2 separate regions of the Homo sapiens genome follow, and region 2 is linked to region 1. Evidence: fine-mapped expression QTL. A gene starts in region 1. The other region holds a variant in brackets. All regions are shown on one strand. Distances are between the middles of the regions.

Region 1 (2,928 bases):
TCCTGACCTTGTGATCCGTCTGCTTCGGCCACCCAAAGTGCTGGGATTACAGGCATGAGCCACCGTGCCCGGCCTGGATATACTTTATAATGGTCTCCTGGTCCTAATGATATCTTTGGGCAACTTATTTCTTAGTTTTTCCCTTTCATCTTGACACCTTATATATAAATTCACTTTACAATTCACAAAGCACAGTTCTACTTACTTATTAATTCTCCTAACCACCTCATAGATGGGTATTACAATACCATTTTATGAGTTTCAGAGGGGTTTCCTTGTCCCACACATATTAGGCTTATGTCCTGGCAGCCCCCCATTGAACTCTCCAAACCTGATCCTTTCCACTCTGTGATTTTCTCTCTTCATCCCTGCTCAATCTCCCTGCACCAGCACCCGATTCCATTTTATTCCAGTCAACACTAAACGCCTGTGTTCTTAGGTGCTGATTCTAGACAGTGACAGAGGAAATTTTTTAAGGACCAAGGACAAGATATGTTTTTCCTTCTGGGGACAGATTTGAGCTAGTTGCTTTTTAAATATTGTTCCTTTGTTATTCTGCCTGATAAGACAAAGTAGTGGGCCTTATAAACAGGATCTCACCAGGATTGAATACCTACTATGCTATGATATTGTCTAGACACTTTATTCATTTTATCTCACTTACCCTGTAAAAGCAGGCTCTATTATCCCCACAATACAAATGAGTTGATAGAAATTTAGTGAAGACAAGACAGTTGTTTAATGTCATATAGCTCCTATGTTCCCATGTTGAATAAGGATTCAAACCCCAGTATCTGGCTCTACAGCCTGTGGTACATTACACCATGTTGTCCAACAAGCATAGCTCTCAGGGTTACATGGTTTGTTAAAGTGGTTAAAAACCCCAATCAAAGGCCCGTGGAAGTTCTTAAGCAGGGGTAGGTTATGCCAGAAAAAAAGTAGTGGCTATTCAGCTAATTTTCTCACATTTACTCAGTCTTTCCCGTCTGTAAAATAAAAATGAATCTAAGTTCCAGAGAAAACAAATGGGGGCAGTGTGAGCCAAGGAAGTGAATAATAATAAGCAGAAGAGAAAGGCAGCCTCTGCTCATTGGTAGTCCCAGGAGGTCGGCCTTCTGCAGTTGCCAAGCAACGAGTGTAAACAGCACAAGATCATGGCCACTAACTACAGTGCCAACCAGGTAAGTTCCCATTCTCCATTTCTTTAACGTTTACTTTTGTTTTTCAGATTCTATCTTTGGACTGTCCCCTCTCATAGGATTCTGATCTTTGAACAGATAGCTGAGAGTGGAGTGAGATAATATTTTACCTCCTCAGGGATAGAGAGAGCCCAGGGGCGATCCAAAGGTATCTCTTGGTTAAATTTGTAGGGTGTAAACCAGAAGTTGGCAATTTTTTTTCTGTAAAAGGGCGGAGTGTAAAAATTTTAGGCTTTGCAGGCCAAGTGGCAAAGTCAAAAATATTCTGTAGCTACTTGCATAATTAAAGAAAAACATTTTTCCATAACATTTTTGACAAATTCAAAATATAACTGAGTACAATTTTTTGTACTACTAATGAAAATAATGGAATTTTGGGGGTTGAGAAAACATTTCACTTAACTGGGATTCAAAGTTAGTGTTCCATTTGACTGAATCAATTGTAAATGTTCATCTATAAAAATCACCCTTACTCTCAGGCCATCCCCAAACAGGCAGCAATATGGATATGGCCCATAGGCCATAGTTTACCAACTCCTGATCTAGACCAGTGCTGCCCAACAAAAAGAGTGCGACCCACAAATGTAATTTTAAATTTTCTAGTAGCTACATGAAAAAATTAAAACATAAAATTTAAATATATTGAATTTAACCCAATAAATCCAAATATTATTTCAACATTTAATCAGTATTTAAAAAATTATAATCAGACATTTTACGTTCTTTTTTTGTACTAAATCTCCAAAACCTGCTGGGTGTTGTAGCTCACGTCTGTAATCCCAACACTTTGGGAGGCTGAGGCACAAGGATCGCTTGAGGCCAGGGGTTTGAGACCACCCTGGGCAATATGGTGAGACCTCGTCTCTACAAGTAAATTTAAAAATTAGCTGGACATGGTGGCATGCACCTGTAGTCCCAGCTACCTGTGAGTCTGAGGGAGGAGGATCGCTTGAACCCAGGTGTCCAAGGCTGCAGTGAGCTAGGATCATGCCACTGACTCCAACCCAGGTGGCAGACCAAGATCCTATCTCAAAAAAAAAAAGAAAAGAAAAAAACTTAAAAATTCAGCATATTTCATATTTACAAAGCACCTCAATTTGAACTAGTCATATTTCAGGTGCTCAACAGCTCCATGTGGCTCCCGGCTCCATGCTGGACAGCACACATCTAGACCAAACAAATTACACCCTTGTCATAGTGACTTAAAGCCTACATGGTTGGTCAGGCCTTTGGTCTTCAAATCTAAAGAATTGTGCCTAGTCTTCATTTCCTGGGTTTGGGGCCTTGAAGTCTCATAGGGCTACTTATCTTTCTCTCCACAGTATGAAAAGGCTTTCTCATCCAAGTATCTGCAGAACTGGTCTCCCACTAAGCCAACAAAAGAGGTATTCCATGTTCAGTGCACCTACAAGATAGCCTCATGCTCTCCCTGTCAATTAACTCCTTTTAGCATTCTCTAAACTCCCATATCCTTCTCTGACCAAGCTCCCCAAATACTTCCCTTTTTCCCCTCACAAACCTTTATCTCTCCCACTTGTACCCCAGAGCATCTCTTCTCATGAAGGCTACACTCAAATTATTGCCAACGATCGTGGTCATCTACTGCCTTCTGTGCCCCGTTCCAAGGTGAGATACTATCTTCACTCCTATCAAGAAAGTCAAATAATTAAGGCACAGAACTGGGAGATGTGCAGTCTCTCACAGCCATTATCGGGAAAATTAAAGTTTA
Region 2 (2,928 bases), 47 kb after region 1:
CAAGCTTTTCAGAAAAGGGATGTTCATTGTGTACTATGAAAAACACACGACCATTATACCCTTCAGTCACATCATTATATCCTTCAGTCACATCATTGTATCAAATCTTTCCAAAAGCATTTAAGAAGGTAAATAGAGTGAATTTCTGGGACTAAAACTTAAAAACACATTGATTCTACAAAAGTTTATTGCATATCCACTACTTGCAAGGCACTAGGACACAAGATCTCATACAGATCTAATGATCTTCTAAAAAAGCTCATGATGTCCCTCACACCATTGATATTAGATGCACAAACTTTTCAAAAGCTTCATATTAGTACACTAGAAGGGCCCACTATTTAAAGGAAAAAAATCTAACGAACACTTCCTTCTTCAGCTCTTCCCTCTTTCCAGCTTTGAAGGCAAGAGGTGAATACAGACATTGTATACCCAAGGCTCCCAGAAAGAAGTGGGAACAAATCTCTTTTAATCAATTGAATTGTGACTCTGAAGTTGCAGGGCACGCATTCCTCACACCAGGCTAGGCCCAGTCACTCAGCTACCCAGCAAGAGTTTGCAGATGTGGGTTGGAATCTATGGCGTGCCCTCTCTGTCTAGCGCTATTGTTTCCCAGACAAATATCAATGTAAACTTTCTACAAGGCCCTCACAGAAACTAGCTGCACAAATGCCATAACCTTATTTGAAATATGACAAAAGTAATTATCCTTCCCTTTCATGTGAAAACAGGAACTCTGTATTTTTAATTGACAAGCCAGAACTTACAATTTCTAGTTATTGTTGCCCCTTCTAAATGCATTAACATGTCTCCCCAAAATGTAATCATTGCTGAAATCATTTTTGAAACTCTTCTCTGGATTGGGGCAGCAATGGTAATGTAAAAATAACATTGGGAAGTAAAAAATCAAGACTGGGCCGGGCGCGATGGCTCACGCCTGTAATCCCAGCACTTTGGGAGGCCGAGGCGGGCAGATCACAAGGTCAGGAGATCAAGACCATCCTGGCCAACATGATGAAACCCCGTCTCTATTAAAAGTACAAAAATTAGCTGGGCGTAGTGGCGCACGCCTGTGATCCCAGCTACTCGGGAGGCTGAGGCAGGAGAATCGCTTGAACCCGCGAGGCAGAGGTTGCAGTGAGC[T/C]GGGATTGGGCCACTGCACTCCAGCCTGGTGACAGAGCGGGACTCCATCTCAAAAAAAAAAAAAAAAATCAAGACTGAAGTCTTAGAATAAGTTGTATAACTTGAGTGAGTCATTGAGCTTCAGCGTTTTCAGTTATAAAATGGGATTGATAATACCTACCTTATTGGTTGCTGAGGGGACTGCACAAGAAAACATACAGGAAAGCATTGTCTAAACTACAATACACCACATATATATGTAACATATTATCACTGGTCTCCCCGAGGTCTTTAGAATTTGCATCACATTCTTTTTAAAACCCTCAGTGGTGACAAAAATACTCATCCACTGAAAATAAATTTGATTTCTGGAAAAAAAAAGTTATTCAAAGCCAAGTCTATGTGATCAAACTGAATACCATTTTTAGTCCAAAACAAGATGTGACTATAATTTATCTTATTATAGTCATACATTATATGACTGTAATATAATGAGTTTCTAAACTTGATCTGATGGTATACCAAAAAGTTTCATAAATGTCTAGGTAACAGCAACAATAAAATAGATATATAACTTTGAATGGCATGATGAATAATAATTTGTATACAAAAGTTCTGGTTAATGATTATTACCACCCAACTACCAAACTATAACCTAAGTCATCCTTGATTTCTTTTCTTTCACCACCCCCCCCATATGATGGCATCACCCAATCCTATCATTAACAGCTAGGAAAATTCATTCCAATCCATTGCTATAGTCTATATCCTCTTCGTTTCTCACTAGGACTGTAACAAGAGCTCCTGAACTGATCTCCCTCGCACCAATCTCTTACATATCATTCAATAACACCAACACTAATTTACTGAAAAATAAATAAAATAACATGGTTTCATCATTCTCCTGCCTAAAAGTCTTTAACAATTTCCCGCTGCTTACAGTATAAGATCCAAACTGTGGGCAAACAACGCACTTCACAACGTGGCCAACTCTCTGGACCTAACCTCCCACAAATTCCTTTCAATCCACTGTAATTCTGCCACACTGAACATTACATTATGTCCAGCTACAGCAAACCATCTTTTGACCACATGCCTTTGCTCATGCTGTTCTCTGAATAGAGCCTCCCTCAGAGCCTGTTAAACTCATCCTTCAAAACTCAATTCCTAAGGGCCGGCGTGGTAGCTCATGCCTGTAATCCCAGCACTATGGGAGGCCAAGGTGGGTGGGTCACTTGAGGTCAGGAGGTTGAGACAAGCCTGGCCGACATGGTGAAACCCCACCTCTAGTAAAAATACAAAAATTAGCCAGGCATACTGGCACACCCCTGTAATGCCAGCTACCCGGGTGGCTGAGGTAGGAGAATCACTTGAACCCAGGAGGCAGAGGTTGCAGTGAGCCAAGATCACACCACTGCACTCCACCCTGGGCGACAGAGCGAGACTCAGTCTCAAAAAAAAAACCAAAACCAAAAAAAAAAAAACAACCAATTCCTGGATAGCAAGATCACTTCTTTAGCCTTACTTGCTATATCTGCCTTGCTCTCACACTTGTTCATATCTATCAATATTTCTTATGTGGTTTAATAATTAATCTATTTATCTCCCTGCTAGACTTTGAGCTCAAACTATCAAAATATTTTGGATCCATAGTACCACAGTACTTTATTTATTTATTTATTTATTTATTTATTTTAAGACAGAGTTTCGCTCCTATTGCCCAGGCTGGAGTGCAATGGCACGATCTCAGCTCACAGCAACCTCCACTTCCCGAGTTCAAGCGATTCTCCTGCCTCAGCCTTCTGA

Which allele goes with the higher level. Positions count from the first base shown, and alleles are read on the strand shown. Sizes are in standard deviations (SD) of each study's normalised expression.
As copies of C replace T in region 2, the expression in sigmoid colon of the gene that starts at base 1,147 in region 1 goes down (small effect, 0.18 SD a copy in GTEx).

The links. PIP is the estimated chance that this variant, and not a neighbour inherited with it, causes the effect.
Region 2: its variant is the best candidate, but not a certain one, in a credible set for the expression of CFAP126 in sigmoid colon (GTEx, PIP 0.55).

The regions. Positions count from the first base shown.
Region 1 is chr1:161,366,095-161,369,022 of GRCh38, reverse strand. It overlaps CFAP126 (cilia and flagella associated protein 126), which reads left to right and starts at 1,147. Exons shown (of 5, transcript NM_001013625.4): 1 at 1,147-1,181; 2 at 2,522-2,584; 3 at 2,745-2,825. The coding sequence starts at 1,155.
Region 2 is chr1:161,319,112-161,322,039 of GRCh38, reverse strand. All of the region lies in intron 1 of SDHC (succinate dehydrogenase complex subunit C), which reads right to left. Among named protein-coding and RNA genes, the nearest start is that of SDHC, 6.2 kb to the right of the region's middle. The variant T/C (reference allele first, on the strand shown) is at 1,144.